Linked DNA regions of Homo sapiens. The protein of the gene in region 1 interacts with the protein of each later gene in a pairwise test. Each region holds a gene or a part of one and is shown on either strand. Other genes may lie near its edges. The genes, in order: FBF1, CINP, ACCS and TUBGCP4.

Evidence for each region.
Region 2: the proteins of FBF1 (region 1) and CINP interact in binary tests that used the Homo sapiens proteins (3 or more experiments, as listed by UniProt).
Region 3: the proteins of FBF1 (region 1) and ACCS interact in a two-hybrid assay, tested with the Homo sapiens proteins (2 studies listed by BioGRID and IntAct).
Region 4: the proteins of FBF1 (region 1) and TUBGCP4 interact in a two-hybrid assay, tested with the Homo sapiens proteins (2 studies listed by BioGRID and IntAct).

What each region holds. Positions count from the first base shown.
Region 1 is NC_000017.11:75,909,335-75,917,529, forward strand, and holds the end of FBF1 (fas-binding factor 1), read right to left. Parts: intron 5,806-8,195; coding exon 5,683-5,805; intron 5,599-5,682; coding exon 5,413-5,598; intron 4,965-5,412; coding exon 4,788-4,964; intron 4,717-4,787; coding exon 4,579-4,716; intron 4,486-4,578; coding exon 4,368-4,485; intron 2,974-4,367; coding exon 2,858-2,973; intron 1,473-2,857; coding exon 1,389-1,472; 3' UTR 240-1,388; downstream 1-239. UniProt on the Homo sapiens protein: Keratin-binding protein required for epithelial cell polarization. Involved in apical junction complex (AJC) assembly via its interaction with PARD3. Required for ciliogenesis.
Region 2 is NC_000014.9:102,347,302-102,353,605, forward strand, and holds the end of CINP (cyclin-dependent kinase 2-interacting protein), read right to left. Parts: intron 2,748-6,304; coding exon 2,618-2,747; intron 1,459-2,617; coding exon 1,256-1,458; 3' UTR 981-1,255; downstream 1-980. UniProt on the Homo sapiens protein: Component of the DNA replication complex, which interacts with two kinases, CDK2 and CDC7, thereby providing a functional and physical link between CDK2 and CDC7 during firing of the origins of replication.
Region 3 is NC_000011.10:44,060,519-44,069,606, reverse strand, and holds the start of ACCS (1-aminocyclopropane-1-carboxylate synthase-like protein 1), read right to left. Parts: upstream 3,338-9,088; 5' UTR 2,906-3,337; exon of another isoform or gene 2,614-2,905; coding exon of another isoform or gene 2,311-2,613; intron 1,980-2,310; coding exon 1,692-1,979; intron 1-1,691. UniProt on the Homo sapiens protein: Does not catalyze the synthesis of 1-aminocyclopropane-1-carboxylate but is capable of catalyzing the deamination of L-vinylglycine.
Region 4 is NC_000015.10:43,400,906-43,409,100, reverse strand, and holds part of TUBGCP4 (gamma-tubulin complex component 4), read right to left. Parts: intron 7,386-8,195; coding exon 7,251-7,385; intron 6,041-7,250; exon of another isoform or gene 5,419-6,040; coding exon 5,302-5,418; exon of another isoform or gene 4,689-5,301; coding exon 4,549-4,688; exon of another isoform or gene 3,900-4,548; coding exon 3,887-3,899; 3' UTR 1,719-3,886; coding exon of another isoform or gene 1,531-1,718; 3' UTR 1,167-1,530; coding exon of another isoform or gene 1,013-1,166; 3' UTR 205-1,012; coding exon of another isoform or gene 5-204; 3' UTR 1-4. Other genes in the region: TP53BP1 (TP53-binding protein 1), read left to right, coding at 5-204, 1,013-1,158, 1,531-1,718. UniProt on the Homo sapiens protein: Component of the gamma-tubulin ring complex (gTuRC) which mediates microtubule nucleation.

The DNA.
Region 1 (8,195 bases):
GAGTCTCTTTTGTGGAGAATCAAATTTGAGACTTAACCAAGGCTTCCAATGGGGCATGTGATACTTCCCTCCTCAGTGTTGGTACCAGCCCCAGAAGCGCCTGAAAAGATCTTCCTCCCACACCAGCACCTACCAGGAGTGTAGCCTGCTCCTCTGGGAGGTAGGAGAGCGGGGTGGCTGACAGCGTGGAGCTTGGGGATTGGCCAGAGCAGAACTCAAATCCAGGCGCAGCTACTCACTGTCATTTCAGGCAGGTTATTTAATCTCCCCGGGCCTCAGTTTCTGCATGTTTGAAGCAGGGCTAATAGTACCCTTCTCCTGGCTGTGGTCCAGCTGCCAGGTGCCACCGCAGACCGCAGGTGCTGGAGGGGAGAGGCACGTGGCCAGAGGCGCCTGGTCCTGACCAATCTTATAGGCTGATCTTTTAATAAGAACATCTGCCTGTTCTTTGGGACTTGTCCAGCAAATAACAGGAAACATTTTCTAAGAAATAAGTATAAACTCCGATGAGCCATGGCAAAAGCAGTTTTTTTAAGCTTAGTCAAGTTGAAGCAGCGGGAGTGGAGGAGGATCAGAGAAACCTCTGTAGTTGTGATTGGTTCCTTGTCGCCTCCACTGCGTACCCGCTGAGCTGGGCTTTGGGCAGGTGAGCAGCACAGAGGCTTCCCTCCTCGTCCCTCCCCACACCCCACCATCGCCACAGCTCCCTCCGCCGCCGGTGGGGCACCCAGATGGGGAGGAAGCTGAGGAGGCCACTGTTCACCCAAACTGGTTGGTCCTTCGGGCAATGCTGGGAATAGGGTGGGGGCTCTGGGCAAGCCCAGGAGGAGGAGGGCCTGGCTGAGTTCCAGGAACATCTCACACCACAAGGGAGGATCTAGCTGGTGCCCTCCCTGTACTGTCAGGAGGCCAGAGGGCCCTTCTCCAGCTCATCAGGGAGGGAACTGCTCTGGCAGGGAGTAGGGAAGGCTGTTTGTGGCATCCCTCAAGAAAGCTCCTGCCTCAGAAGAGGCCCAGGCAAAAAGAGCCCACAACAGTCTACCTGTGGAGCAGGGGGAGCCCACAGAGCCCAGGGGGAGCCCACAGAGCCCAGTGAGAGCTGGGGGTCCTTGCTGCCAACTCAGACCCTCAGATCCAAGCCAATGGCTTTGGGGCAGGGCAGCCAAAGCCATGGTAAGATAGCCTACACCACAGAGCCCCAGAGGCAGGGGCTGCCCCGGGCTGGCACATTTGGAAAGGATGCACTTGCACCCTGTCCACGGAAGAGCTGTCATCAGGCCTCAAGCATCTCAGAATCCTCCCCAGGCACTGCCTCCATGGAGGCAGCCGGAGGAACAGGACAGTTCTGGGGTCCGAACCCTCTGTTGGGGAATCGGCTGGGGTCCCACTCAGGCTGAATGAGATGTCAAATTGTAGGACCCTTTCTTCAGGGTCTCCAGGAAGAACTGTTCATTCTCCAAGAAGTCACGGTCCTGCAAGGCAGGTTTGGATGGGCGGTCACCTTCCCTGAGCTGAGAGGGAGGTGGAGCCCTGGATGCTAGCTGAGCCAGCCGTCACTGAGGCCCCTCCCCACATCGTCCCTGACTCTGCCTGGCTCTGGGAGTCAGCAGGGGCCATGAAAGAGCCCAGGTATGGAGTGAGACAGACCACAGTCTCAATCCTGGCAAGGTTACTTGTTTGCTGTGGAACTTACGAGCACATGACTTCATGTCTCTAAGCCTCAGTTTCCTTGTCTGTAAACATTCCTTGTAGCCCTTCCTTGCAGGGCTGTGTGAGGGTAAAAGCTTAAAAAATACACAAAGCAGGCCAGGCACAGTGGCTCATGCCTGTAATCCTAGCTAATCCGCAGGCCAAGGGGGTAGGATCACTTGAGCCCAGGACTTTGAGACCAGCCGAGGCAACATCGTGAGACCCCATTTCTAAATATAAATAAATAAGTAAAATATAAACAAAGCCTTCGGCATTGAGGTTGGCACACAGGAAATGCTCCATAATGACAACTGTTATCATTATAGTTTTGTTTTGTTTAGTTTGAGACAAGTGCCTTGCTCTGTCACCCAAGCTGAAGTGCAGTGGTGTGAACACACCTGTAGCCTCGACCAGCTGGGCTCAAGCAATCCTCCCACCTCAGCCTCCCAAGTAGCTGGGACTATAGATATGCCCCACCATGCCCAGCTAATTTTTAAATTTTTAATATTTATTTTTTTGAGACAGAGTCTCGCTCTGTTGCCTGGAGTGCAGTGGCACCGTTGTGGCTCACTGCAGCCTCGACCTCCCGGGCTTAAGTGATCCTCTTACCTCAGCCTCCGGAGTAGCTGGGAGTACAGGTGTATGCCACCACGCTCAGCTATTTTTTTGTGGAGACGAGGTCTCACTATGTTGCCCAAGCTGGCCACGAACTCCTGGGCTCAAGTAATCCTCCCACCATAGCCTCCCAAAGTGCTGGGATTACAGGTGTGAGCCACGCACCTGGTCCTCTTTTTTTAGTTTTTCATTTTGTAGAGACGGTGTCTCAACATATTGCCCAGGCTGGTCTCAAACTCCTGGGCTCAAGTGATCCTCCTGCTTCAACCTCCCAAAGTGTTGGGATTACAGGTGTGAGCCACTGTGCCCAGCCTGTTATCATTATTGCTATAGGTTATCATGAGGTTTAACTGAGATGACATATGCAAATTGCTTTGCACAGAACCTGGCCTAGTGTGGAAGTCTGAGCATTGGCTCACTAAGCAAACTGCAGTTTTACTCCCCAGGAGCTGGGGTCACCCCTCCCCAGGGCTACCATGTGCTCCTCCCTGCCTCTGCCCTGAGCTGGAAGGACTCGTGAACACAAGGATCCCCAAGGCCAGGAGAGACTCACCTGCTCTGCCATGTGCCTCAGCAGTGCCAGCCTGGCATGGAGGTGCAAGGGGCTGGGGTCCAGGCCAGTTGGCGGCTGGCTGCACCAACGGGTGGTGGGAGCAGGAGGCATGAGGGCTGAAAAGGCCAAGGAGGAAGTCAGGGACCAAAGTGTTGGTGGAAATACCGGGCGGTCACAGCTTGTTCCTGCAGAGCTGCTCCCCCCGCCAGTGGGTGGACCCTGGCCATATACTCAGGGTGCAATGGCACTAACTCTCAGAAGCCTCTGGCAAATGCATACCTGCTCCTACCTGGAAAGACCATTTATAGGAATTTATTCCAGTGAAATAATCAGGCAAAGGTACAAACACATATGTAGGAAGATGTCCACTGGGTAGTCTTTCTCTTTAAGACAACAAATCACTCAGCACAGAGCAGCCTCACAGTGGAAAACTGTGCTGATTGGGAATTGACTAAATGTTTAATGACTGATCTGAAAACCTGTTCCACGTGTACATTACTGAGTAAAAAAAGTAAAGTTATTGAAAAACACATACAATCCTAATTTTGTTTTTAAAAACATGTACCAGGCTGGGCGCGTTGGCTCATGCCTGTAATCCCAGCACTTTGGGAGGCCAAGGCGGGTGGATCACCTGAGGTCAGGAGTTCAAGACCAGCCCGGCCAACATGGCAAAACCCTATCTCTGCTAAAAATACAGAATTAGCCAGGCATGGTAGCACATGCCTGTAATCGCAGCTACTTGGGAGGCTGAGGTAAGAGAATCGCGTGAACTCAGGAGGTGGAGGTTGCACTAAGCCGAGATCATGCCACTGCACTCCAGCCTGGGTGACAAGAGTGAAACTCCATCTCAAAAAAGAAAAGAAAAAAAAAGTACCAGAGTGGAACATTATGCACCAAAATGTTAAAAGTGAAAAGTGGTTCTCTCAAGACTCAGGAGTGGCGTTGAGGGTGACTTTTTTTTTTTTTTTTTTTTTTTAAACGGAGTCTTGCTCTGTCCCCTAGGCTGGAGTGCAGTGGCACAATCTCGGCTTACTGCAACCTCCACTTCTCGGGTTCGAGTGACTCTCCTGCCTCAGCCTCCTGAGTAGCTGGGATTACGGGCACCTGCCACCACACCCGGCTAATTTTGTATTTTTAGCAGAGACGGGGTTTCATTATGTTGGCCAGGCTGGTCTTGAACTCCTGACCTCAGATGATCCGCCTGCCTCGGCTGCCGAAAGTGCTGAGATTATAGGCGTGAGCCACCACGCCCAGCCTGACAATGACTTTTTTTATTTCCTTTTTTTTTCCTGAGTCCAGAGTTACAAAAAGGTGACATTTTTCATAATAGTGTTCCTCTATTTCTGATTTATCTAAAATTAACACACATTATTTGTGTAAAAAAGAAATAAGGCGACTATAAAACCCAGCTGGCCGCCTTAACTGGAGCGGCTGGAGGAGGGCCTGCCCACTCCTAGCACTGCCCCTGCCCAGTCCTGAGCCGCCGGCCCTTCCTTCTGGAGCCACTCACCACTCTGGCTGGAGGCTGCAGGGCCCTGGGCCCTGGGGAACAGACCCACGAGGCTAGAGGGCAGGTCCTGTCGTGCGCGGTCCAGTTGCAGCCTCTGCTGGGCCAGACTCAGATGCTCCTGTCCCCGTTCCCCCAGAAAGAAGGACTCAGCTGTGAGGTGGGAGGCTGGGGGTGCCGGGGGCAGGGGCGCCATACACTCAGGGAGCCTTGCCTGGTGCATGTGCTGCTCCTGCTTCCGCAGCCGCTCCTGCTGTTGCTGCACCGCCTGCAACCGGGCCTGCTGCTCTGCCTGCACCTGCTGGGCCTCGCGCAATGCCCGCTCCCCCTCCTCGTACTTCTCGGAGGCCACCTGCAGGGAGGCCGCCTGGGTCAGGGCTGCCTGGGCTCAGATGCGCCCACGCCCATGTGCCCGAGCAGCACCTTGCTCATGCTCTCCACCTCCTCGGCGCGGAGCTTGACACGCAGGGCGGTGGCGTTGATCCTCTCCTTCTCCAGCCGCAGCTCCTGCCGCTCCTGCTCCAGGGCTGCTCTCTCCGCTGCCAGCTGCTTCTCCTCGGCCCGGAGCTCGCTGGCCCTGATCTTCAGCTCAGCCTGCTCCTGGAGACAGCGGAGGCCCTGCTGCATTCTCCTCCCAGGAATTGCGCTGCACTCTGTGCAGGACTCTAGGGTCCCCTCTGCCCACCCTGCCCCTGGGAGGAGGTGGTGGAGCCAGGGGCTTCCAGGGAGAGCCAGAGAAGCCTGGGGCCAAGCCGGAGTGCTGCCCTCACAAGCCACGTGACTGTGGCAGGCTCAACTCTGAAGTTCGGTTTCCTCATTTCTAAATGACCAAAGTCATGGGAACATGAGGATCAAATAAAATGTGTATAATGCACCTGGGACAATACGAGGAAGATGTTAGCATGATGATGCGATTACTGTTTTAATCCCTATGCTCTTGTGACATTAGTGCTACACTCTCCTTTCCTAAGACTGGAAGCGGATGTGTCCAGATGGAGGGGCGCAGGCAACCCTGGGCCCTCCACTGTCCGGAGGCTCTGGGCCCTACCTTGGCCAGGCTGATGAGGGTGCCCTCCCGCTGGGTGTCCACCTGCAATGCCCGCTCGGCCTCGCGCTCGGCCCGCTCCTTACTCAGCTTTTGCTGCGCGGAGAACTCCGCCCACTCGGCAGCCAGGCGCCGCCGCTCCTCCCCGCACTTGAGCATGACAGACTTCTGCTCCTCCAGCAAGGCGCTCTGGGATGTGGGGGTGAAGGCACGGGGTGAGTGTCCCTGGGCATAATGGCAGGGGCAGGGGCTGAGTGCGGTGGCTTGACTCACCTTGGCCCGTTCCAGCTCCGCCCTTTCCATGGCCATCTGCTGGGCCGTGACCTTCCTTTGCTCCTCTAGGGCGCGCTGCATGGACTCCGCCTTGGACTGCTCGGCAGTCACCCGCCAGCGTTCCTGTAGGGCCCAGGGCAGGACTGAGAGCGTGGTTCCCGCCCTGAGGATCACGCCTGGCCACTCCCTGAGAAGCTGCATGAACCCACCAGTGTCTCCCACACTATGCCACTGACACGTCCTTCCCAAAGAGGCACAAAATGAGGGGTGCCTGGGAGGCACTGCCAGGGCCCAGCCCGCACGATTCTGCCCAAGAGAAGGACCCAGCAGGTGCCCTCCCAACCCTCAGGTCTCCAACAGCACCAAGGCTAGCAGCTTGGGAGGGCCAAAGAGCAGCAACATCCCTGCCGCTGAATCGCCAGCTACGCACTCTGCCTGTCCTCACCCATCAGCCAAGCAGGCTAAGCACAGGGTGGCTTAATGCTGTGCTGTGGGCCCAGCCACACACAGCACAAGGCGAGAGCTTCACTGTGCCTGACCCCAGGCAGATGCTTAACACAGTTACCAAATGAAGAGGCGAATCAAAATGCTTCACAACATAAAAGCATCTCTATCTACGTTGACATGGCTACAGGATAGATATCAGGTCAGCAGTGGACATCTCTGACTAGTGGGATATTTTTATTTTCTTCTTTAAAAACATTTTTTTGGGCCGGGCACAGTGGCTCAGCCCTATAATCCCAGCACTTTGGGAGGCTGAGACGGGTGGATCACCTGAGGTCAGGAGTTCAAGACCAGCCTGGCCAACGTGGTGAAACCCATCTCTACTAAAAATACAAAAATTAGCTGGGCGTGGTGGCAGTTGCCTGTAATCCCAGTAGCTCAGGAGGCTGAGGCAGGAGAATCCCTTGAACCCAGGAGGCGAAGTTTGCAGTGAGCTGAGATTGCGCCACTACACTACAGCCTGGGTGACAGAGCGAGACTCTGACTCAAAAAAAAAAAAAAAAAAAAAAAAGTTTTTGGCTGGGCATGGTGGCTCACGCCTGTAATCCCTGCACTTTGGGAGGCCAAAGTGGGCAGCTTGTCTGAGCTCAGGAGTTTGAGATCAGCCTGGGCAACATGGCAAACCCCCGTTTCTACAAAAAATACAAAAAATTAGCTGGGTATAGTGGCATGCACCTGTGATCCCAGCTACTTGGCAGCTGAGGTGGGAAGATTGCTTGAGCCCAGGAGGTTCAAGCTGCAGTGGGCTGAGATCTTGCCACTGCACTCCAGCCTGAGTGACAGTGAGACCCCATCTCTAAAAAAAATTTTTTTTTTTGGCCAGGCATGGTGGCTCCCACCTGTACTCTCAAAATGTTGGGAGGCCTAAGTGGGCAGATTGCTTGAGCCCAGGAGTTCAAGACCAGCCTGGGCAACATGGCAAGACCCACATCTCAGTAAAAAATACACAATTAGCTGGGTGTGGTGGTTTGCGCCTGTAGTCCCAGCTACTCAGGAAGCTGAGGCAGGAGGATGGCTTAAGCCAAGGAGGTCAGGCTGCAGTGAGCTATGATCACACCACTGCACTCCAGCCTGGGCAACAGAGCAAGACCCTGTCTCTAAAAAATAACAGTGCTTTGTAAAACCTTAGAAGATGATAACTACTAGCTGAGGACAAAAAGATAGGTGGGAGGACAAGGAAGGCTTTGTGGAGGTGGTAGCATCGAAAGATTCATTACCATTGAATTCAGCCTAGAAAGATTTCCACAGGTAAGGAAAAGGATGTGAGCAAAGGCAGGGACTGCAGGTGTGCACCACCACACCCAGTTAATTAAAACAAAATTTAAATGTTTTTATTATTTATTTTTTTGAGACAGAGTCTCGCTCTGTTAACCAGACTGGTGTGCCATGTTATGATCTCCACTCACTGCAGCCTCTGTGTCCTAGATTCAAGCGATTCTCCCACCTCAGCCTCTCTAGTAGCTGGGATTACAGGCGTGCGCCACCACGCCTGGCTAGTTTCTTATTTCTTTATTTTTAGTTTCACCATGTTGGCCAGGCTGGTCTCGAACTCCTGACCTCAAGTGATCCTCCAGCCTTGGACTCCTGAAGTGCTGGAATTACAGGCATGAGCCAACTTGCCTGGCATAAAAAAATTTATTTATGGTCTCGCTAGGCTGGTCTCAAATTCTGGGCCTTAAGTGATCCTGCTGCCTCAGCCCCCCAAGTAGCTGGGATTATAGGCACAGGCCACTGTGCCTGGCTAAGGTCATCATTATTTAAATAAAGCATGTGCTTATATATGAAAGGTATCTAGGGAATTCAAATGTCTCTGTGAGAGCTGAAGAGGCTAGGATGACATTTAATGGGCAAGAGCATCTGTCCCAATGTCAGGCCTCAGCTAATGTGACAGATTCGAGTGTCAGGAAGTGGGAAGTGCAGCTGATGGTTGCGGGGGCTAGACTGCGGAGGGCAGCCAAGGTGGCCGAGGGGCTTGCGGTGCTGAGGAGCGGACAGGGCGTGGTGGGGGG
Region 2 (6,304 bases), on another chromosome or scaffold:
GCTCGGCGCGGTGGCTCACGCCTGTAATCCTAGCATTTTGGGAGGGCGCGGTGGGTGGATCACGAGGTCAGGAGATGGAGACCATCTTGGCCAATGTGGTGAAACCCCGTCTCTACTAAAAATACAAACATTAGCTGGGTGTGGCGGCGCGTGCCTGTAGTCCCAACTACTCTGGAGGCTGAGGCATGAGAATCGCCTGAACCCAGGAGGCGGAGGTTGCAGTGAGCTTACATCGTGCCACTGCACACCAGCCTGGTGACAGAGCGAGACTCCATTAAAAAAAAAAAAAAAAGTAGGCTTTTGCATACCTTCACATTCTCCCCATGCCCTAGCTTTTGGCCAGTCTCTTCGGTCTGTTTCAAAACTGTCACCTTTCCCTCATTCTAACCTAGTATGTTAACTCTGGAAATGGCTGCAAACATTGTGAAACTCGAGGATTTGTGTCAGAAGAATGCCAGGGAAGGCAGTTTACATCGCTTGCCATGTCCCCAGTATGCAAACAGCGGCAATTTTTTTGTAGGTTATTTTCATTTTCATGATGTCAAACTTCATTTTAACTCCATGGGATCTTATTATTTAAGACGAAGTCTCACTCTGTCGCCCAGGCTGGAGTGCAATGGCTCACAGCAGCCTCTGCCTCCCGGTTCAAGCCATTCTCCTGCCTCAGCCTCTCAAGTAGCTGAGATTGCAGGCACGCGCCACCACGCCAGCTGATTTTTGTATTTTTAGTAGAGACAGGGTTTCATCATGTTGGTCAGGCTGGACTTGAATTCCGAACCTAAAGTGATCCGCCCACCTCGGCCTCCCAAAGTGCTGGGATTACAGGCATGAGCCACCGCACCTGGCCCAAAAACTAATATAGTCTCATAAAAACTTCAACAATCAGATAGGCATAAAGTAAAAATATTAAACCAGGGATTTTCTACACAAACATAATGTATAAAGCATGCCTAATTTATAGAAACTAGATCACTCACTCATTCTGCTCAGAAACTCATTGATTTTACTCTGAAGCACCCACGAATGACAGATTCCCAGGAGGGGCAGAGAAGGCTGAGCAGCACCACGTGGGGCTGGCCGCGGGTTGTGGGCATGAGCACGCCTGGAGAGGCCATGGGGCTGGTGACAAGCTCTGGCCAGAAGACCCCAAGGTCTGATCCTGGGGTCTGATCCAGGCCTGCGGCACTGGGTCCTAGGCAGACTGTCTGCCTGGTGAGACGTGGAAGGAGCCAGTGTCCGCAGCCGTCTCAGGACGTCAGAGAGCTCGGTGGCCTGTCTCCAGCAGCATGCTCTCCAGATGCAGCCTGCTGTCGCTCTCCACATAGGGCTGGTGCAGCCACATGGACAGGTAGCTCAGGGTGAGGTCGGGATCCCCGGTGTGGGCAAGCTCCTTGGCCACCGTGCGCTTCAGGAGCAGCTCCTTCCTGTACATCTCCAAGAGCTTATGCGAAACCTCATCTGAAAGAAACGTGAATCTCCCTTAATGGCAGTGATTCAAGAACATAGTGTCGACTTGGGAAGAACTACATTTTAACAGCTCTTGATTAAAAACCAGAATCAGCAACAGCACTGAGGGGAAGAAGGGCCCGATGGAGTTTACTACTCTAGCTGGTGCAGATTAGTACAATTTGATAACATGGTCAGCAGAGTGAAATAAAAAGTGTATACAAGCCGGGCGTGGTGGCCCACACCTGTAATCCCAGCACTTTGGGAGGCCCAAGTGGGTGGATCACCTGAGTTCAGGAGTTTGAGAACAGCCTAGCCATCGTGGCGAAAACCTGTCTCTACTAAAAAATACAAAAACTAGCCAGGTGTGGTGGCACGCACCTGTAATCTCAGCTACTTGGGAGGCTGAGGCACGAGAATCGCTTGTGCCTGGGAGGCGGAGGCTGTAGTGAGCCAAGATTGCACCACTACACTCCAGCAGGCGTGACAGAGCGAGACTCTGTCTCAAAAAAAGTATATATAACCTTTTCTACTTGACTCTTAGGTGACCTACAGTGATTATCAGTAGGAGATTCCCCTCAAACTGACAATATTTCACTAAACACATTCCACTAGGTGATTTTACCCTTTCCTGCCTTATTTAAAAAGTCTCAGGTCAACATCAAATAGCTTACCCTTGTCTTGAACTAATAAAAGCTAAAAGTAACCCTTTAAGAAGCGCCTCATAGAGTTTACTGAAGCCATGGGTTTCATTTTTCCCAGTCATCTTCCATGAGGTTGGCTGCAGTGACCCTCAATTTGTTTTTTAATTAAAACAAAAAACAAAAGAAAAACCTCAACAAACCAAAAAAACTCCTTTCTTCCTTTCCCCCCCTCAAAATGAGAGATATCTGCTTCCACAGAGGAGGTGGAATTCACTCTGCCCATTGGTTTTAGAGGCCTAATAACAGCAGCTTGCTTCACGGGTCTCTATGTTTCATATACTCTGCTGATAACCAGGTAATTAAAGCCAAGAAGAAATGTTTAAGATGCCTCTGTCTCCTTTCCTCCCGATACTTTTGCATTGAATTTGAAAGCCTTGTCAGCTTCTTAAAGTACCAGATGTAAACGATACTAAATGCCCTTAATAACCTTTACCCTCCTGAAAATCAACTGAGAAGGAACTACTTACAGAAATGGGTTGTAGGCCACGTGTGGAACAGAGGGGGTCGTTTACTCTCCTCCCCATAATGGTAGTTTTCTAGTTCACAAATTCCCTTGGTAGTTGAAGACAGCTTTTCCATTTTCACCTGTATTTTGGTCTGAAAGATATCCATTTGGAATATGATAATATTATTTGAAATCTCCAGTCTCAGATTTAATAACTCTAAGATTTCAAAGCTAAGAAGTGTAAGTCTATTATGATAAAAATTCCAATAACTAAACACTGTTAACTCTACGTACAGCAAATTCCCAGGGAGATGAAGGTGGACAGTTGCTATGATTTCATTAATTTGAATGACTTTGGTAATAAACCCCAGATTTCCAGTCCTAGAGCAAGAAAGGTTTCCGAGTGCCATTTCACTAGGATTTCCAAACAGCATTAATGTCTTAGACCCAAAGACCTGGAGGAATCCCAAGGCAGGCTCTTGCTGCCTTTTTTTTTTTTTCTTTTTTTTTTTGCGACAGGGTCTCATTCTGTGTGGCATGATCATGCCTTATGCAGCCTCAACCGCTGGCACCTCAGCCTCCCAAGTAGCTGGGATCACAGGTGTGCACCACCACACCCAGCTAATTTTTTTTAATTTGTGGAGACAGGGTCTCGTTATGTTGCCCAGGCTGGTCTCTAACTCCTGGGCTCCAGCAATCCTCCCGCCTCAGCCTCCCAAAGTGCTGGGATTATACAGGCATGCGCCACCGCGCCTGGCTGGCTCTTGCTGCTTTTAAGAAGTGAGAGAGAAAGGCATCAAATGAGCTCGTTTCTGATGCTCTCTCTCTCTCTCTTTTATCAAATGAGCTCGTTTCTGAGGCTCTCTGTCTCTCTATCAAATGAGCTCGTTTCTGATGTTCTCTCTCTCTCTCTTTTTTTTTTTTTTTTTTGAGACGGAGTCTTGCTCTGTTGCCAAGCTGGAGTGCAGTGCCAGGCTGGAGTGCAGTGGCGAGATCTCGGTTCACTACAACCTCTGATTCCCTGGTTCAAGCGATTCTCCTGCCTCAGCCTCCCAAGTAGCTGGGATTGCAGGCATGTGCCACCACGCCCAGCTAATTTGTGTATTTTTAGTAGAGACGGGGTTTCACCATGTTGGCCAGGCTGGTCTTGATCTCCTGAACTCGTGATCCGCCCACCTCGGCCGCCCAAAGTGCTGGGATTCTAGGCATGAGACACCGCACCAGGCCTGACTCTCTCTTATTAACTGCCTTTATTTACGGAAACCTCCTTGACTTCCTTGTTTATAAAATGGCAACACAGAAAGGGAGCCCTACACACTTCACGCAGAAAGGAAGGAAACGTGGCAAGCTGCCATTGACGGTCCCTCAGTGTGGACCAGGCTCTGTCCTAAGCCCTGTAACTGCATGATGTGTATGGCTACTTGTGGGAGACACTAAACCAACCCCACTGCACACACCAGGCAGCACAGAATAGGGGCAATGGCGGGCTTACTTTCACAGCTTGGTGAAGAGGATTAAGTGAGTTAGTATTTGTGAAGCACCTACTTGGAGATATATAAGGGTTGGATAAAGAAAATTAATGGGTGAAGTAACTAGGATTTCAGATTTAAGTAGCATAGGTCTATAAAGACCAAATTTTGAACTCCTAAGTATAGTTGACTTTACATACATAAATATGAAAAAGGGGAAATAAGAAAAGATATATAAATTGTCAAATATCTTAATTCCTTTACTTGGTCCTTCCAACCACCCTCCAATTACATTGGAAGTGGCAAGCACTAAATTCAGCTAACGTTAATTTTTAAAGGACTTTACTTAAGTAGTTTCCCAAATCTTTTAAGGTTTGATATTTTATTTGGCCCAACCCCAAGAGGCAGGACTTGTCATTTCCGTTTCACAGCTGGGAAATTGCTTAAGGTTGAGCTGAGGAAGGATGAGGCCAGAACTCGATACCATGCCTTCTGACACCAAGTTTTTTTGTTTTTGTTTTTGTTTTTGTTTTTTTTGAGACAGAGTCTCGCTTTGTCACCCAGGCTGGAGTGCAGTGGCGCGATCTCCGCTCACTGCAACCTCCGCCTCCCGGGTTCATGCCATTCTCCTGCCTCAGCCTCCCAAGTAGCTGGGACTACAGGCGCCCGCCACTGTGCCTGGCTAATTTTTTTGGTACTTTTAGCAGAGCTGGGGTTTCACTGTGTTAGCCAGGATGGTCTCGATCTCCTGACCTTGTGATCCGCCCACCTCAGCCTCCCAAAGTGTTGGGATTCCAGGCGTGAGCCACCGCGCCCAGCCGACACCAAGTTTTAACACCCAATCCTCTGCTCTTTCCTGTGAGTCCTGCAGCAGCTCCCTGGTGCCACCTGATTCTAAGAAAAGCTGATAACAGGAGACTAAGGAAAATTCTGGAGCCTTGACCCCAGGCAAGAAGTCATGCTCAATCCTGCAGCTCAGCCATCAATAAAGAATTCAAGTCACATAGGCACGTGCAGCCCTGAATGAACAGTGCATAAACAGCAGGCCCTTACATTTCAACATCGGTGGCTTCTTCCCACAGCAAACACAGACCACAGTGAAATGTTAGCCCAGCTTAGGAAGAACGGTGCATGAAACCCCCAGAAGGTCAAAGTTATGAAAGACACAGACCAGGTCTGGAAACCATTCTCTATAACGGATAGAGGAAAATAGGAAAAATAATAATACCCTATAAAATCAACTTTTGGTTTTGAACATAGAATGAGAACTTATTCCCAAACCACTTTTCTTTTTCTTTTTTTCTTTTTTTTGACACGGAGTCTCACTCTGTGGCCCAGACTGGAGTGCAGTGGCTTGATCTCGGCTAACTGCAACCTCCGAAAGTGATTCTCCCGCCTCAGCCTCCCAAGTAGCTGGGATTGCAGGCACCTGCCACCACCCCCAGCTAATTTTTTGTATTTTTAGTAGAGATGGGGTTTCACTATGTTGGCCATGCTGGTCTCAAACTCTTGACCTCAGGTGATCCACCTGCCTCGGCCTCCTAGAGTGCTGGGATTACAGGCATGAGCCACTGCGCCTGGCCAAAACAAAAATTAAAAAAAAACAAATAAAAATACAACAATTAGCTGGGTGTGGTGGCAGGCACCTGTAATCCCAGCTACTTGGGAAGCTGAGACAGGAGAATCACTTGAACCCAGGAGGCAGAGGTTGCAGTGGGCAGAGATCACCCCACTGCACTCCAGCCTGGGCAACAAGAGTGAAACTCCATCTCAAAAAAAAAAAAAATTAACAAATGGGAGGGAGGGAACAAATCTCCCACGCAGAATAATTCCAAATAATTTATGTAGATACTGCACCCTCAAGCAGGTGGTGAATACGTCCCTACCCCCAGGTGTGGGCTATGCATAGTGACTTCCTGCCAAAGAGCACAGCGTGGGAGGAGGAGAAAGAGCAACGTCACAGCAGAGGAACCTGGAAACACTGCCCAGCCAGGTGATCAAGGTCAACTTCAGCAGTGGAAAGTCCTGGCTGTGCACAGTGGCTCACGCCTGGAATCCCAGCACTTTGGGAGGCTGAGGTGGGAGCACTGCTTGAGCCCAGGAGTTTGAGACCAGCCCGGGCAATAGGTGGGACCCAAAGAAAAGTCCTGATGACAGTATATCCAGTACGTGCCCTTGATATGACATGATAGAAATGGCACTTTACTTCTGTGGTCCTCCTCTGAACAAAACCCGTAACC
Region 3 (9,088 bases), on another chromosome or scaffold:
CTTTCAGATGAGACCACAGCCCCAGCTTCATGGCACCTTCACAAAAGATCTTGAGGCTGGGCGTGGTGGCGTGGACTGGCACGGTGGCTTGGCCAGGCGCGGTGGCTCATGCCTGTAATCCCAGCACTTTGGGAGGCGGAGGCAGGCGGATCACCTGAGGTCAGGAGTTTGAGACCAGCCAGGCCAACATGGCAAAACCCTGTCTCTACTAAAAATACAAAAATTAGCTGGGCATAGTGGCACACACCTGTAATCCCAGCTACTCAGGAAGCTGAGGCAGAATCCCTTGAACCCGGGAGGCAGAGGTTGCAGTGATCCGAGATCATGCCACTGCACTCCATGGGTGTCACAGCGAGACTCCGTCACAAAAAAAAAAGAAAAAGAAAAAGGAAAAAAAAGATCTTGAGCCTGAGGCATCCACCAGGATTCCTGAACTCCAAAAATTGTGAATTGTTGTTTTAACTTGCTAGATTTGAGGTCATTTGTTATGCAACAATAGATAACTAACACAATCCCTCACTTTTTCCAGGTTTCTGCTCAAATGTTCATCTTATTAAAATAGCCTTCTGTGACCTCCTTCTACTAAATAGCAACATCCCCAGCCCACCCATCTTTCTCTGTCTTCTTTAACCTGGTTTATTTTTCTCTATAGTACTCACCACCATATAGTATACATATATTTTCTCTGTTCATTCACTGTTTGTCTCCCTAACTAGAATATGAGCTCTATGAGGATAAGAACTTTGTTTCTGTTCACATCTACATGGTAGATGCTCAACAAATAAAGATTATTAAAGGGTTATTTGTAACAGCTTTCTGACTTCTGAAGGCATTATGAGAATAGCTTATATTTGGGACAGAAAATAATAATAGCAGCTATCATTTATTGAGTAGCACTGTGCTAAAAACTTCATATACTTGCTCTCATTTAATCTTGACTCTTCTACACAACAGGTATTATTATCCCATTTTATTTTATTTTTGTTTGTTTGTTGTTATTTTGAGATAGGGTCTCACACCGTTGCCCAGGCTAGAATGCAGTGGCATGATCTTGGCTCACTATAGTCTCAACCTTCCAGGTTCAAGCAATCCTTCCACCTCAGCCTCCCCAGTAGCTGGGACCACAAGTGCACGCCACCACACCCTGTTAATTTTTTTATTTTTACCTTTTTGTAGTGATGGGGTCTTGCTATGCTGCCCAGGCTGGTCTCAAACTCCTGGCCTCAAGTGTTCCCTCTGCCTCAGCCTCCCAAAGTGCTGGGATTACAGGCATGAACCACCATGCTTGGCCTTATTATCTCATTTTAGAGATAACTTAAGATTCAAGGAAGTTAAGTAACTAGCTCAGCAACACACAACCTATAAGTAAAACAGTTGCAACCTGAACCTTAGTTCTGCCCTAGCTCTAAAGTTGGATAGTCGACAGGTCGTGGGTCAGAATCCATAGAACATCATATGGTTCTTGAATTCCTCCCTCAGAAATCAAGGTCCCCTATATTCTAAATGGACCATTTCCTGATCCAGGCAGTACACTGGGGCCTCTCTAAGCTACATCAGAAGCCCTCTTGGAGGTCAGAGTACCATAACTCCAACCTCATAAGAGCAGGCTGGATGCTGCCTTATTGGTCAAGGTAGGGTACCCCACCCTGCAGTTCTCTCTTGGGTCCCAGTGGGAGGGGAGCTTCACTCACACTGGGGTTCTTGTCCTCATCATACTCATCCATGTGGTAGGTCCTGTAGCCCTCCTCAGCTGAATCCCAGAACCATTTAATCATTCTTCCTCTAGAGGACAGGTAGGAGGTATCAGAGGAGATCATGGCAGGATCACCCACTCCACGGAGCTCTGGCAGCTTCTGGTCCAGTTTTCTGGAGCATTCTCCTTCCAGATCTTCCCCATGGCTACTGCCCAGGTCCTGCATGCAGGTGGGGCCCAGACAGGTGGTGGGAGCCCTGAAGTCCTTTTGAGGAAGGGTGAACATCTGCAAAAAGACAAAACGCACAGGCCTGCTCAAGGGATTTCCATAGCACCAAGCATCAGAAAGGAGTTGGAGTCATGGGAGTCCCCTTTCTCTTATCTGCCCCTTCCTTTAGGTTTATGCACTCATCACTTCCTGTGTCCCTTAGCTGTAACCATATGTGCAACGACTTCAACAAGAAAAATCTGTTAAGGACCTAGTACGTGCCAGGGACTGCACTTGCCACATTGACGTGACTTTAATGTATTGCTGCTTTAGCGTGTTCTACTTCTGCAAAAGTTTTTCACTCTCCAGCCTAAGGGGTCATCAACATTCTTTTTCCACCCTTGCTCACCTCAATTACCAAATGCCAGGTTAAAATTTCCTGAGTTAAAGCAGAGTATTGCCTGGGAGTCCTGGGGGTCTTGTGGTGTAAAGGGTAGGATGAGATTATGTGGTGTTCTGAGGCAGATGGCGGGTAGGAACTGAGGGAAGGGAGGAATGGGAACCTCCACAAGTGCAGGCAACCCAGGCAGAGCTCCAGGGCCTGCCTCTTCAGTCCTGAAGAAACGAGGTGTGGACACCAAGGAGAGGGTGGTCTACTCCTGCCCGCGGGTGTGAACTCCTTCACTTCTCTAAGCCAGTTTAGTTTCCTCATCTGCACAGTGGATATAACAGTAACCACCTCGGGGTGGCCGTGAAGACATAAATATATATGTTAGTGACAATAAAGTACTTAGAACAAATCCTGGCTGATGACCAAAGTTCAATAAAATATGAGTCATTATAGCGTAACTCCTTGCCAATTTTCCCAGTCCTGATGCACAACACAAGCTCTGGTAACACTGGGCGCACCATAAACTCAGCGGGTACCCGCAGTTAAATTTTCCTCCGCAAAGTCTTCTCAGGGGTACTCTTTAAATTGGCTGGGCTCTCCCAAGAGCGCTCACCTCCAGCTCTCCCGACAGCCCAGGTCCGAGGAAGGGCAGCACAGTGGGCGGAAGCCGGGGTGGGAGTAAAGCCTGGGGTAGGGGGGCGGCGGGGTTCGAGCCTCCAGGCGTCCAGCAGGACGGCGGCGAATCCACAGCCAGATACCCGCACTCGATGAGGCCTTGGAATCCCGCAAGTGGGGCGGCTACCGCGCACGAAGAACCGAAACGGCCTTCTACAGGGCGGAGGACGTCTCGCGAGAGACGGCTCCAGGTTTCCAGGCAGAGGAAGTGTGATCGGCGCCAAGGGATTCGAGATGGAAGGGCAGAGGCTTTTGCAAAGTGCACAGAGGGAGGCCTGAACGGCTTCCTCCTCTGCAAAGTAGTGGATCCCACCTACTTGGCGGAGCTGGAGGAGGCGGTGCTGGCACTCGGTGGGCGCCCATCACGTGTAGGTTTTCTCCGCCCGGAAACGCCCTGCGGCGACTTACGCGTGGGTGAGGACAGCGCCCCCCTGCGCTCAGCGCGCCCGGACTAGGAGACTGAGGGCGGTCCGCACCGGGTTGGGCTTCCAGGCCTGTTCAGGGCGCAGTTCGTCCCCTTGCCACTCAGGCGGGGGCGGTCTCGGCGGGGACTACGCTTTAAGGGTGGCACACGAGGTAGCACCGCGGGACCAGGAAAAGGGAAAGGGGCGTAATGCCGTTTCCCACCTCCACTCTGGGTGGCCTGCGCGTGCTGGGCCGCCGCCGGGCCGGGTCTGCCACCTCCTTCTGCCTCCTGGCCTTGGTTCTCCAGTTTTCAAAGGAGGTTAGAGCCACAGAAATTTCTTGCCAAAGTATGCTTGGCTGCGGCCCACACAAAGGGCTTTTTAGATTCGGGTGTGAGCATCCTTATGGCCTTTCATCGCAGTTTGTCATTTCTGCCCCTTTCATTTGTAGGGGATTTTCTGTAGCCCTCATAGGTTCTTAGTTGGGGGAGACTCCTGTTACAAAAGACAAATTAACAAGAGAAAAACAGACAGAAATTTACTGACATGTGTATTTCATTTATACATGAGAAATCTGGAGGGAATGAGTCGTTCTGGAAGAGGTGACTTTGAATTCCAGTTTTTATAGCATCTTCAACAAAGAACAGTAATTTTTTTAAGTTACAAGACAAAGAAATAGGGCTTTGAGTCTCTCCAGGAGGCAACTTGTGAGAAGGCAAAAAAAAAAAAAAAAAAAAAAGACAAAGGCCAGTTAGTCAAGCTTGTTAATGTAAATTCCTCTGGTACCATCTCCAGGCCATAGGGGTCTAAAGTTGTCTTTGTTCTCCTAGGTAGACAGAGGGACAGGATACCTTTTGTCTTTGTAAACCTGTGTCCTACTTTTAGGCAAATAGGGCCAGGGTAGAGAGCTTTCCTGAATGTGCTGCTGCTTGTCTTTAGCACAATCCTTCATGTTTTGGGGAGGCATGTCCTGGTCTCCCACACGTGCCTGCAATATTTGTTGAACTCTGGCTAGGTGTGGCGGCCCACGCCTGTAATGCCAACACTTTGAGAGGACAAGGTGGGAGCATCCCTTGAACCCAGGAGTTTGAAACCAGCCTGGGCAACATAGAGAGACCGTGTCTCTACCAAAAAAAGGTTTTTATGTTTTTTTGTTTTTTTGAGACGGAGTCTCGCTCTGTCATCCAGGCTGGAGTGCAGTGGCACAATCTCTGCTCACTGCAACCTCCGCCTCCCGGGTTCAAGCAATTCTTTTGTCTCAGCCTCCCCAGTAGCTGGGACTACAGGCACGCACCACCACGCCTGGCTAATTTTTGTATTTTTAGTAGAGATGGAGTTTCACCATATTGTCCCGACTGGTCTTGAACTCCTGACCTCGTGATCTGCCCGCCTCGGCCTCCCAAGTGCTGGGATGGCAGGCGTGAGCCACTGCACTCAGCCAAAATGTTTTTGTAAATTAGCCAGACTTGATGACATGTGCCTGTGGTTTCAGCTACTTGGGAGGCTGAGGTGGGAGGATCACTTGAGCCCAGAAGGTAGAGGCTGCAGTGAATTTGATCGTGCCACTGCACTCCCACCTGGGTGTTTGCGAGACTCTATCTAAAAAAAAAAAAAAAAAAAAAAAAAAATTACATACACACACACACACACACACACACACACACACACACATATAATTTCAAAAGTATTTTTCAAACTCTGCCCTAAGCTCTACATATTCTGGCAATGGGTACAGTGGGCACCCAGGTCCCAGGTAGAGCTGCAGTCTCTGAGGTGCCTTGAATGGGAAAGTCTTCTTTCCCCATGAAAGGAAATAAGCAGAATCTCTCAATACAGGTATGGCTGGGAAGACATGGCTGTCTTCTGGCCATTCCACTTCTTGTCTTCACTTTTGCCTTGCACTAGCTAACACTGTGACCTTGAGCAACTCTCATGACTTTTTTGGCCCTTACTGTTTTCTTCTGTAAGATAAGGAAGCGATTATTTTCCTCTATTTAAATCTTAATTCTATGTAATTCACATCTCAGTGAATGCCTGTTATGTGCCAGGTCTCTGTAAAATGCGAGGATACGGTGATGAGCAAGACAAACCAAAGCCTGCATGATTGATTGGGAAGGCCGACTTACAATGTGGGGACTATTTTAAAAAGACTATTTACTGGGTACCATGGAAACATGCAGCAGGGGGATTTAACCCCACGAAACAACAAACACAGGCACTTGTCCTAAGTGGAAGACATACACACACGTTACATTAAATGTGAATTGACTAAAGATCAATTAAAAGATCATCAGACTGGATAAAACAGCAAGAATCAAGCATATGGTGTGTGCAGGAGACACACTTTAAATACAAAAACAAATGGTCAAAGGTAAAAATGTGAAAAAAAACAAGCAAATAATAATCATGAAAAAAGCTGATGTGTTCATATTGGTATCTGATAGTAGGCTTCAAGACAAAAATAATTAACAAAAATAAAATGGGGCATTTTAGAATAAAATGATTAATTTATCAGGGTGACAATCTTAAAAGTTTATGCTCGTAATAACAAAGCTTCAAAATACATGAAGCAGAAACTGACAGAACGAAAAAGAGAAAAGACAAGTTCATAATAATTGGAAAATTTTATACCACTCTCTCGGTGATAGAACAAATGGATCAAAAGACACTAAGGATCAGAACTTTTGGACATTATACAAAAATTTAATCTAATTGACATTTATAGAACACCATCCCCAATACCACAGAATATACTTCTTTTCAAGTGCAAATGAAACATTAAGATAGACCACATGTTGTAAACAAATCTGGCCATAAACTGTCTTAATAAGTTTCAAAGGATTGAAACCATAGAGTACATTCTCTAGTCACAATGAAATTAAAGTAGAAATCATTAACAAAGAAAGCTGAACAGTCCCCAAATATTTGGAAACTAAGTTACATATGCTAAGCAAACCATTGATTTAAAAAAAGAAATCACAAGGGAAATTAGAAAATATTTTGAATGATTAAAAACCAGCAGATCAAAGTTTATGGAATGTAGCTAAAATAATGCTAAGTGAGAAATGAATAGCTTGTAATGCATATATTTGAAACCAACTTAAAACAAATGATCTAAGCTTCCACATTAATAAGCTAGAAAAAAGAGCAAATTAAACCCAAAGTAAATAGAAAGAAATAAAGATAAGAGCAGAAATGAAGGCGAAACGAGAAAAATCAATGAAACTGAAAGTTGGTTCTTTGAAAAGTTCAATACAGTTGATAAACAGTTAGATTGACTGATCAAAAAAACTCATTTTGTTGCAGAATTTTGCTCCTTAGTTCAGCTAAAACCGGGTTCTTGTCACACCACCAGGAAGGATTAGGAACATGGACACATTGAAGGGTGAGGGGAACGGAATTTACTGGGCAAAAAGGAAAAAAGAAAAATACTGTCAGCAGAGCAAGAGGGGGTCCTGCTAACAGGCCTCCAAACTCACATTGAATCCCAGGCCACCACACAGAAATTGAAGAGGCCAGGCTCCTCCCCGCTGAGCATGGCCACAGCTTCCCTTGGCTCCATCTTGTTCTCCCAGTGCACAGATGGGTTGGAGATTCTCCGGAGACCCTCCCCGTAATCCCCCTCCTGCATGTATCAATTTCAGTATCAGGAAAGGAAAAGGAGATACAACTAAAGATCCTAAATGTATTAAAAGGATAACAGAATATTTATAACCAATTTTAAGTCAATAATTAAACTTAGATGAAATAGACAAACTTTATTGAAAGGCACAAATAACCAAATCTGATACAAGAAATAGAAAACTCGAACTGTCACAGAAATTGAATTTATAAGTAAAAGCCGTCCCACAAAAAAAAAAAAAGAAGAAAAAAAAAACCTCCAGGCCCTTATGGTTTTACAGCTGAATTCAACCAAATATTTAAAGGTTGAAGAAGTTTTTGGACACAAACTTCTAGAAAATTCAGGAAGGAACAGTTTCCCAAACATCTATGAAACCAGTATTAATCATGATACTGAAACTAACAATGCATTACAAAAAAAAAAATTATAGAATGATGTCCTTCTTGAATGTAAACTTCTTAAAATAGCAAACCAAACTCAATGGTATATAAAAGGACAATGCATCATGACCAAATGGGGTTTATTGCAGCAATGTGAAGTTGCTTTAACATTAAGAAATCAATGTAACTTACTACATTGATAATCAAGAGAAAAATCATATCTCTATAAATGCAGATGAAAAACATCTAACAACATTGAACCCTCATACATGGTAAAACTCCCAGCAAACTAGTAATAGAAGGACTCTTTATTAGATAAGGGACAGAATGAAAAATACAGTAACGTTATACTCAAGAGCAGAAGATTGCACTCAATGCTACTAAGACTGAGAACAAGGCAGGCTGTCCTCTCAACCACTTTTATTCAACGTTATACTAGAGGTTTTTTAAAAAGAGCTATATCGGTCAGGAGCGGTGGCTCAGCTTGTAATCCCAGCACTTTGGGAGGCCGAGGCAGGCGGATCACTTGAGGTCAGGCGTTTGAGACAAGCCTGGCCAACATGGTAAAACCCTGTCTCTACTAAAGATATAAAAATTAGCTGGGCGAGGTGGCACGTGCCTGTAGTCCCAGCTGCTTGGGAGGCAGAGGCAGGAGAATCGCTGAACCAGCAGCAGAGGTTGCAGTGAGCCGAGATTGTGACACTGCACTCCAACCTGGGCGACAGAGTGAGACTCAGTCTCACAACAACAACAACAACAACAACAAAAACACACACATACACACACACACACAAGAAAACTGACAAGAATAAACAAATTTGGATTCGGAGCAAGTACGGCCACAAACCCAAGCGACTAAAGCCACCAGTTGGTACTGTGAGCTCTTTCTTCATCCATAAAATCGTAGTAGTCCCTTCTCTGCCCACTTCACAGTATCAGTGCTCTGACATGCAAGGGCTTTGCAGAGAAACTGATGGGTGGCTTAATTTGAACAGCTGAAAACATTAGAAATGGAAATGGACAACCCCAGATGCTACGAACTGAATGTGTCCCCCCAACATTCATATTTGAAATCCTAACCCCCAAGGTGATGGTATTAGAAGGTGAGCCCTTTGAAAAGTGATTGGGTCATGAAGGCAGAGGAAGACCTCTCACCTCTTCTGCCACATGAGATGACACTGGGAAGATGGGACCCTCACCAGATGCCAAATCTCCCAGGGCCTTGAACTCGGCCTTTCCAGCCTCCAGAACTGTGAGAAAGATTTGTTTCTAAGCCATCCACTTTGTGATATTTTCATATTATGAAGGGACTAAGACACCAAGCTTGTCAGATTTTTTTTTCTTTTTTGTAGAGACAGGGTCTTACTCTATAACCAGGCTGGAATGCAGTGGCACGATATGGTTCACTGCAGGCTTGGTCTCCTAGATTTAAGCGAGCCTCCCACCTCAGCCTCCTGAATAGCTGGGACTAGAGGCACACATCACCACACCCAGCTAATTTTATTTTTTGTAGAGACAGGGTCTCGGTTGCTCAGGCTGGTCTCAAACACCTGGCCTCAAGCCATTCTCTGGCCTCAGCCTCCCAAAGTGCTGGGATTACAGGCATGAGCCACCGTACCCAGCAAGAGACTTTAAAAGCCTTTTGGGAAGGTAAAAGTGGAACAAACTCTAGTATTTGGAAGCAGGAATACCTGCAATTATACTCCCACCTGCCT
Region 4 (8,195 bases), on another chromosome or scaffold:
GCAGTGTAACACAGCTTACCAGTGTCTTCTAATTGCGGATCAGCATTGTCGAACCCGGAAGTACTTCCTGTGCCTTGCCAGTGGGATTCCTTGTGTGTCTCATGTCTGGGTCCATGATAGTTGCCATGCCAACCAGCTCCAGAACTACCGTAATTATCTGTTGCCAGCTGGGTACAGCCTTGAGGAGCAAAGAATTCTGGACTGGTAAGTATTTGAAGCCCATCCAGAATTGTATAGGCAGGAGGACAGCAAGCTTTGGAGGGAAGAGAATCTAGGTGAGAGAGTAAAGCTTTCTAGAAATTGGAATGTCTGTGGGATAAATTTGAGTGGGTTTGAAATGACTTCAGGAGTTTATCTAGTTTATTTCCCTAGGTTACATTGGCTAGGAACCTTTTGCAAATGTGTGAAGATTTGTATATAGGTTCAATATTCTCAACCTGTAAAGTCAGAGAACTAAGTTTTAAGCAAGCATTAAAAATATATAGGCTCAGGAGCATGATTTGGATTATTCTCAGCCCCAGAACAAACATGGAAATTAGAAAGCCAGGAATGCAAGGAATACAGATCATTCATAGAAAGAAGGAAGAGAAGGGGGACCCTAATATAGGGCTTAGTTTTTTAAGATGAAGTCTTGCTCTGTCACCTAGGCTGGAGTACAGTGGCGCAGTGACGACTTACTGCAGCCTCAACCTCCCAGGCTGAAGTGATCCCCCTACCTCAGCCTCCCAAGCTGCTGGGACTACAGGCACTCGCCACCACACCCAGCTAATTTTTTTGTTGTCTTTTGTAGAGATGGGGTCTCACCACATTGCCCAGGCTGGTCTCGAACTCCCAGGCCCAAGAGATCCAACCACGACAGCCTCCCAAAGTGCTGGGATTACAGGCTTGAGACACTATGTCTGATGGGGCATTTATTTTTGAAAGCATTCAGATGTACATGAGTCCCTTTGCAGAAAGGCAGTTTGTTGGATATTACTTGTCATGCTAAGGTCCTTTCCTGTCTCCTTCATAGGCAACCCCGTGAAAATCCTTTCCAGAATCTGAAGGTACTCTTGGTATCAGACCAACAGCAGAACTTCCTGGAGCTCTGGTCTGAGATCCTCATGACTGGTGGTGCAGCCTCTGTGAAGCAGCACCATTCAAGTGCCCATAACAAAGGTACCTGAAAGAGTGTGTGTAGTGTCTTTGTTCCAGGGATCTCCTTAGACCTGTAGGTGTTAGGCCTTGTGGTCCAAGGCTCAGGCCTAATAGGTTGACCGTATCCATGTTTCTTAGAGAAGAAAAGTACCACCTTCAAGAGGTGAGTCAACATAAGTGAAGCACTGGACGTATATTTGTTAAATATTTCTACAAGGTCAGCACATAGTGATTATAACTCTGCCTTTGGTCATGATCAGTAGCAGTGTGTTTGACATAATAGGGCTTTGGTTTGTGCAGAGTGGGATGTATTGGTTAGAATCAAATCTCTCTTTCTAATGGAGGGCTAAGTTGAGTGTCCTTTCCTTCTTCACTTTCCCTTGCTCCTTGCAGATATTGCTTTAGGGGTATTTGATGTGGTGGTGACGGACCCCTCATGCCCAGCCTCGGTGCTGAAGTGTGCTGAAGCATTGCAGCTGCCTGTGGTGTCACAAGAGTGGGTGATCCAGTGCCTCATTGTTGGGGAGAGAATTGGATTCAAGCAGCATCCAAAATATAAACACGATTATGTTTCTCACTAAAGATACTTGGTCTTACTGGTTTTATTCCCTGCTATCGTGGAGATTGTGTTTTAACCAGGTTTTAAATGTGTCTTGTGTGTAACTGGATTCCTTGCATGGATCTTGTATATAGTTTTATTTGCTGAACTTTTATGATAAAATAAATGTTGAATCTCTTTGGTTGTAGTAACTGGGATTTCTTCATCTGTTTTTTTGAGCTTAATCTCAGAACAAATGACAAGACATAGTACTTTCTCTGAGTCTTTCAACAGGCTTATTCACTTACGGAGGACAGCTGGCCAAGGAAATTGAAAAGTTAAGAGTGAACTTTATTCTGTGGCATCATTCCCAAAAGGTTATTCCAGGGTGTCTAAAATGCTATGCTTGCAGAAACTCAGTTTAAGGTAGGTGAAGGCCCAGATTAACAGTTGTGCCAAAAGTTGAGTGGAATTGGGCACAGCTCTGTTTCCTGACAGTTAAAAAAGACCTCATGCTCTCTCTCTGAGCTGAGATCACAGCTCACCTGTGGGTACTCCCCAACTCTTAGAGCTAAAGGGAGAACGAAAGGACCAACTGCCATGAAGGGACAGTGACCATAAGCTTGATGGAATGACCTTCCGTAAGATAAACATGGGAAGCACAAGTGAGAACACCTGGAAATGTTACACGTTCTAGTCAAAGACCCAATATTATTATTATTATTATTGTCACAATAGCTGGAAGCAGTTCCTTCCCTTCCTCTGGCATCACTGATCCCTGCATGGCTTCTCATTCTCTAAAGCAGGGGTCAACAAGGTTTTTTTCTGTAAAGGGTCAAAGAGTAAATATTTCAGGCTTTGTGGGCCATTTGATCCATCACAACTACTCGCCTTTGCTGTGAGGGCATGAAAGCAACCATAGACAATGAGTAAACAAATGGGCATGGCTGTGTTTCAGTAAAACTGTACAAAAACAGACAGCAGGCCATAGTTTGCCAGCTCCTGCTCCAGAGACAGCAGTAGAAAGGGTGATCTTTAGTTGATAATAGCAGGGAATAAGTTGTCAGAGCTTCCCAGTGTGTGTAGAATATGTAGTGATGAAAACCAGATGCAGTGACTATAACCTGATGCCAGAACACTGCATTCTTTTTCAGTTTGGAGGGCGTTGTTCAGTGAATATTTCTTTTTACTTACACTGATATGAATATTGATTACCAGTGATGGCTGGGCCATATTAAGATAACTTCAACCCCTATGGTTTGTGTAAGATGGGTAATTGGGCCTGCAATCTTCAGTATTTAAAAATCTAACAACTTGATCTCAATTTTTTCTTAAGGACCTTTTTCTTGGAGAATAATACTTTTTTTTTTTTTTTTTTTTTTTTTGAGACGGAATTTCGCTCTTGTTGCCCGGGCTGGAATGCAATGGCACAATCTCAGCTCACTGCAGCGTCTGCTTCCCAGGTTCAAGCAATTCTCCTGTCTCAGCCTCCTGAGTAGCTGGGATTACAGGCACATGCCACCACACCTGGCTAATTTTTGTATTTTTAGTAGAATCGAGGTTTCATCATGTTGGTCAGGCTGGTCTCAAACTCCTGACTTCAGGTGATCCGCCCGCCTCGGCCTCCCAAAGTGCTGGGATTACAGGTGTGAGCCACCATGCCCGGCCTAAGAAATACTTTTAAGTATATTTTCATTAGCTAGAATTGCCCAATCTGTGTAGGTATAAATTACTTGGTATAGGGAGAGAGAAAGCCTATCTTACCTGTTGCTTTCTTACTTGGTGGTAACATCCAGCAGTTAGTCTATTTATAAACATAATTACTTTTTCACATATGAACCATAAAATATTTAACTTTCTGCTCTATATTGTTTGTTTACCGCTGTATCTCCCACAGCTTGAACAGTACCAAGGTACGTAGTAGGTGCTCAATAAATGACTATTGAATAAATGAACATATCCAACAAATGTTCTCAATGTAAAGGATCAGAGATGCCACATGTTCTCCTTGATGGGAGAGACCCTTCCACATGGGAATGATGGGAAGGAGTTGTACTCCTGGATGTTCAGTAACTGCTTCTAGGAGAAAAGGTAGAGTCCTATCACTAAGCCGCAGATATTTATTTGTGTGTGGCTAGAATGGGATGTTTTGAATCTTCTGTTACAACCTTGGGAACGTGGCTGTTATTTCAATTTATGAGCCAGAAATTTTCACATCCCGAAACTACAAAAGAGAAAAAGAGCCTTATTAAGTGTCATGCTTTCCCAAGACTACCTTCAAAGAAATATGAATCAGGATAACCTGTGATCTAAATAATGTCATCTTAAAACTGAAGAGTTTCTTTTGACTCTTCTGCTACAATAGCTTAGAAAAAAATCTGCTTGCAGACATTTTAGAGAGAAAGGACAATGAAGTGATTTTCTGAATGGGAATGACAGACCTCTGGGAAGCCAGCTACCACTGAATCTCGGTATCAGTTTTTTTTAAAGTTTAGAGTTAGAAGGGGTGGTCGCCTCCTTTCACAGATGCGGAAGCTAGGGACCAGCAAGGCGGGGTGCCCACGGCTGCACAGCTAGTTCATATCAGAATTGGGAGTGGAAGGCCCACTGCCTCCCAGCATAGCAATACATAACCTAGCAAAGGACTTAACACCTATCTCACTGTCAGGTTTTTTAGTATTTTATGATGATGATGACTTCTACTAGAAAATAACCTCCATTAAAATTATTAAAGATGGTCACACCTCTATCTCTAAGCCTTACTTATAAAATGAGGGTATTTGGACTAAAGTCTTCTTCCAGTTCTAGAATTCTACAACTCATTAAAAAGCCACCTTAAAAAGTCTACTGAGTTACCCAAGGGTTGCTCCTACCTGCCCAGAGTTCCACCAGCCTGGGTATAGTATTTGTTATAATCTAGTCGTAACAGTAGTTGAGCCAAATCTGAGTTGATCTGATGATTCCGAACACTGGAGAGAATCTTGAACAGGAGTGAAGACTGGCGGCTAAAGCCCTGCAGAGAGAAGGACTCAGCTGTCATTCCACTTCAGCTCACCAACTCTCCATATGGAGGATGGGGGCGGAGGGAGGAGTTTCTTGGAAAAGCCTTGTTCAAAATTCTACAGAACCACCTGGCCTTCCCACATTCCTATTTCTATTAGTTCCTAAAATGACTTGTACCAAATCCATACATGCATGACTTCCTATGAAAGTACTCTTTCATCAGTAGGAATTTAGTAGCTGGTTTCCAGTTAATGTATTTTGTCAAGTACTGGGGTTGGGGAGAACCCGTTTTGATTACAAGCAGATAATTATCTCAGTGAGATGGGGGTTAGTTCAAGGAAGTAAGGAGGGGGGAGGATGTGAGGAAGTTAGAACAACCCAATGCTTATTTGATGGGCTGAATAAACTATTCAGGACTGAACTATTTTTGAGCACTGTGAGGTGGCACAGTATTACCTGCTTCAAAATCAACTGATACCAACATTTTTATCTTTGTATCTTATCTCTGTACGTGTGTGTATTGAGGAAATGCTTTACTGACTCAGAGGAAAGATCATGAATTCTCCATTGGCAAAACCACCTCTGTCCTTTCGGCAAGGCTGCATACTTCCAGGCAGACGCACCTTCACGAGAATGCTCAGCTGGGCGGCTCCACGCTCATCCAGTGGGCCTAGGTTCTGACTGACCAGCGAACAAAAACTGTGACAGAGATCTAGGATTTCATTCAGGCAGTGAAACACCTACCCGGGAAACAGAGTTGGCATTAGGAAAGGAAGGAAGGTACATCCATGAAGTTAAAGTGTTAGGAGAACAGTCTGATTAATAGCTGATCTAATTAATAGCTGACCTCCCAAATCTGACAGGATAGACACTGCCACGTGCAAGGCCTGCCAGCCCCTCAGACGCACAAAATGCGTAAAACAAATGCATCCTTTCCTGGCTAAGCGAGTATTACTCTCTTAGCCCTGCACCAAACCTCCAATCTAGCCACATTTAACTCTTCATTTCTTAGACCCGCAGAGTGTCTTCCTGCCTCTGAGCTGTGAGTGTTGTTCCCTTTGCCCGGGATGCTCTTGTTTTTAATACCAGTTCAAGTCCCACTCTCTCAGTGAAGCACTCCCTTCCCCACTATAGCCTTTAGTGAACCCTCGTTTCTTGCTTCTTTATTATCTGTACTGTTGTCCACTTGGCAATTGTTCAGGCCTCTGTGTTGTTACTGATTTTTGTATGTATATATATATATATGTCTTGTTTTTCCAACTAGATTGTGAGCTCCTTAAGGGCAGAGCCATGAATTATACCTCTTTGTATCCCCAGTGCCTTGCATACAGTAAGCACTCAATAAATATTTAATGATGATGACCTGCTCTGTTATTCTGCTTTTCCCTATGGATACATCTATGCCACATAAGGACAGCATCTACCCATCACAGTAGTTCTTGGTTGTTTTCAGCCAGCCCTCTGGAGTGGCATCTATTAATATATATCTTACTCTTCCTGGTACAGCAGAAATAGCCCTAAACACCAGAACATTTTTAAAAAGTCTGTAACAGCTGTGCTGTAGCACACTGAGGAATAACAACCAGCTCATGTCAGAGGAGGCATAACCGTTCCATTAGAAACTACCAGAGATCATTTCAGTCTTCCTGTTCTTTATCCTGGAATTGGAACTAGCTTGTGAGCTTTAAAAAAAATTAGTACCTGGGTCCCACTATTACAGGGATTCTAATTTAAGTGCTCTGTCACCTAGATTTTTTTAAAGAGTCCCGATGATTCCAATGTGCAGCCAAAGTTGAAAATAACTGCCACGAAGGAGACATATATGTACTTACAGAAACACATACATAGATCGAGAGAGAAACACTACTCTAGTTGTCTATGAAAAGAACTTTCAAATGACTGATCCATCCTGGTCCAAAAGATTTCTAAGAAGGTGAACTCTATATGCTTTTCATTGGTTTTTCTGTATTGTCAGCAAGAATTTTGAGTTTCTTTAACTCCTGAGGGTTTAAGCACATAATTCTTTCATCTGTAGCTGCTCACCACACCCTGTATTTCAGAAATTCAAAGACATCTTAGGTCCCGTTTAACATGCCTTTTTAGTTTTGCTTTACACATTCTTTTTTTTTTTATCTGCTCCCCCAAGACAGAATCTTGCTCTGTTGCCCAGGCTGGAGTGCAGTGGAATGATCTTGGCTCACTGCAACCTCTGCCTCCTGGGTCCAAGCAATTCTCCTGCCTCAGGCCTCCCAAGTAGCTGGGATTACAGGCGCGAGCCACCACACCTATTATTTTTTTTTTCTTCTGTATTTTTAGTAGAGACGGGTTTTCACCATGTTGGCCAGGCTGGTCTTGAACTCCTGACCTTGTGATCCGCCCACCTCGGCCTCCCAAAGTGCTGGGATTACAGGCATGAGCCACCATGCCCCGCCGCTTTACACATTCTTAAAAAATGTTTTAAAATGGACTTGAATAATTGCTTAATGATGGTTTCGTATCCTGTCAACTCAAACTGCCTAAGGGAATGGTCAGTGGTAGAAGCAGTCTGAGGAAACCAATGAGCCTTACTTACAGGTTTCAATAGGATAAAGGATTGAGCCAGCAAATTGCTCAGGAAGTGGTCATGAGCCAATCGGATGCTTTCAAAGTCTCGGGTAGAATTGATCTGATGAAGCAGCTGGGAGAACTGAGACTCCAACACATCTACCTGATAGACATTACAAAAAATTTTAGCACTTTGCATATTCTAAGCACTCGAAGACATTAAGATGCCTGACAGATTGAAATGAAAATGCTTTGCCTCCACTCATCTTCCTTCTAACCAAGTCACATTAAGGCTGACCAAAGACACCCTTATATTGCCCAGCCTTGTAGGAAGTTATTTGCATAATTCTGAACCCCCTCCCTCCAACGTCCTGGCTGACCACTCTCCCCTGCCCCATCCTTTTCTCTTTTTCCTTTTTTTTTTTTTGAGACGGAGTCTTGCTCTGCCACCCAGGCTGGAGTGCAGTGGTGCGATCCTGGCTCACTGCAACTTCCACATACCAGGGTTCAAGCAATTCTCCTGCCTCAGCCTCCTGAGTAGCTAAGATTACAGGTGCCCGCTACCACGCATGGCTAATTTTTGTATTTTTAGTAGAGAAGGGGTTTCACTATGTTGGCCAGGTTGGTCTCGAACTCCTGACCTCAGGTGATCTGTTTGGCTCAGCCTCCCAAAGTGCTGGGATTACAGGTGTGAGCCACTGCGCCCAGCCTCCCCTGCCCCATCCTAATCCACTCATGGCCACATTCCGTCTACTGACTGACTTGGTCACCTACAGGATTCCAGAAGTTATAGCAAACAATAAAAATAAGGGGCAAGTCAACAATAAATAATAGATTGTTGATGAGGATTCTTTAAAATGCCTTTAAGAGGCTGGTGTGGCGGTGGTTCATGCCTATAATCCCAGCACTTTGGGAGGCAAAGGCAGGAGGATCATTTGAAGCCTGGAGTTTTTTTTTTTTGGAGACGGAGTCT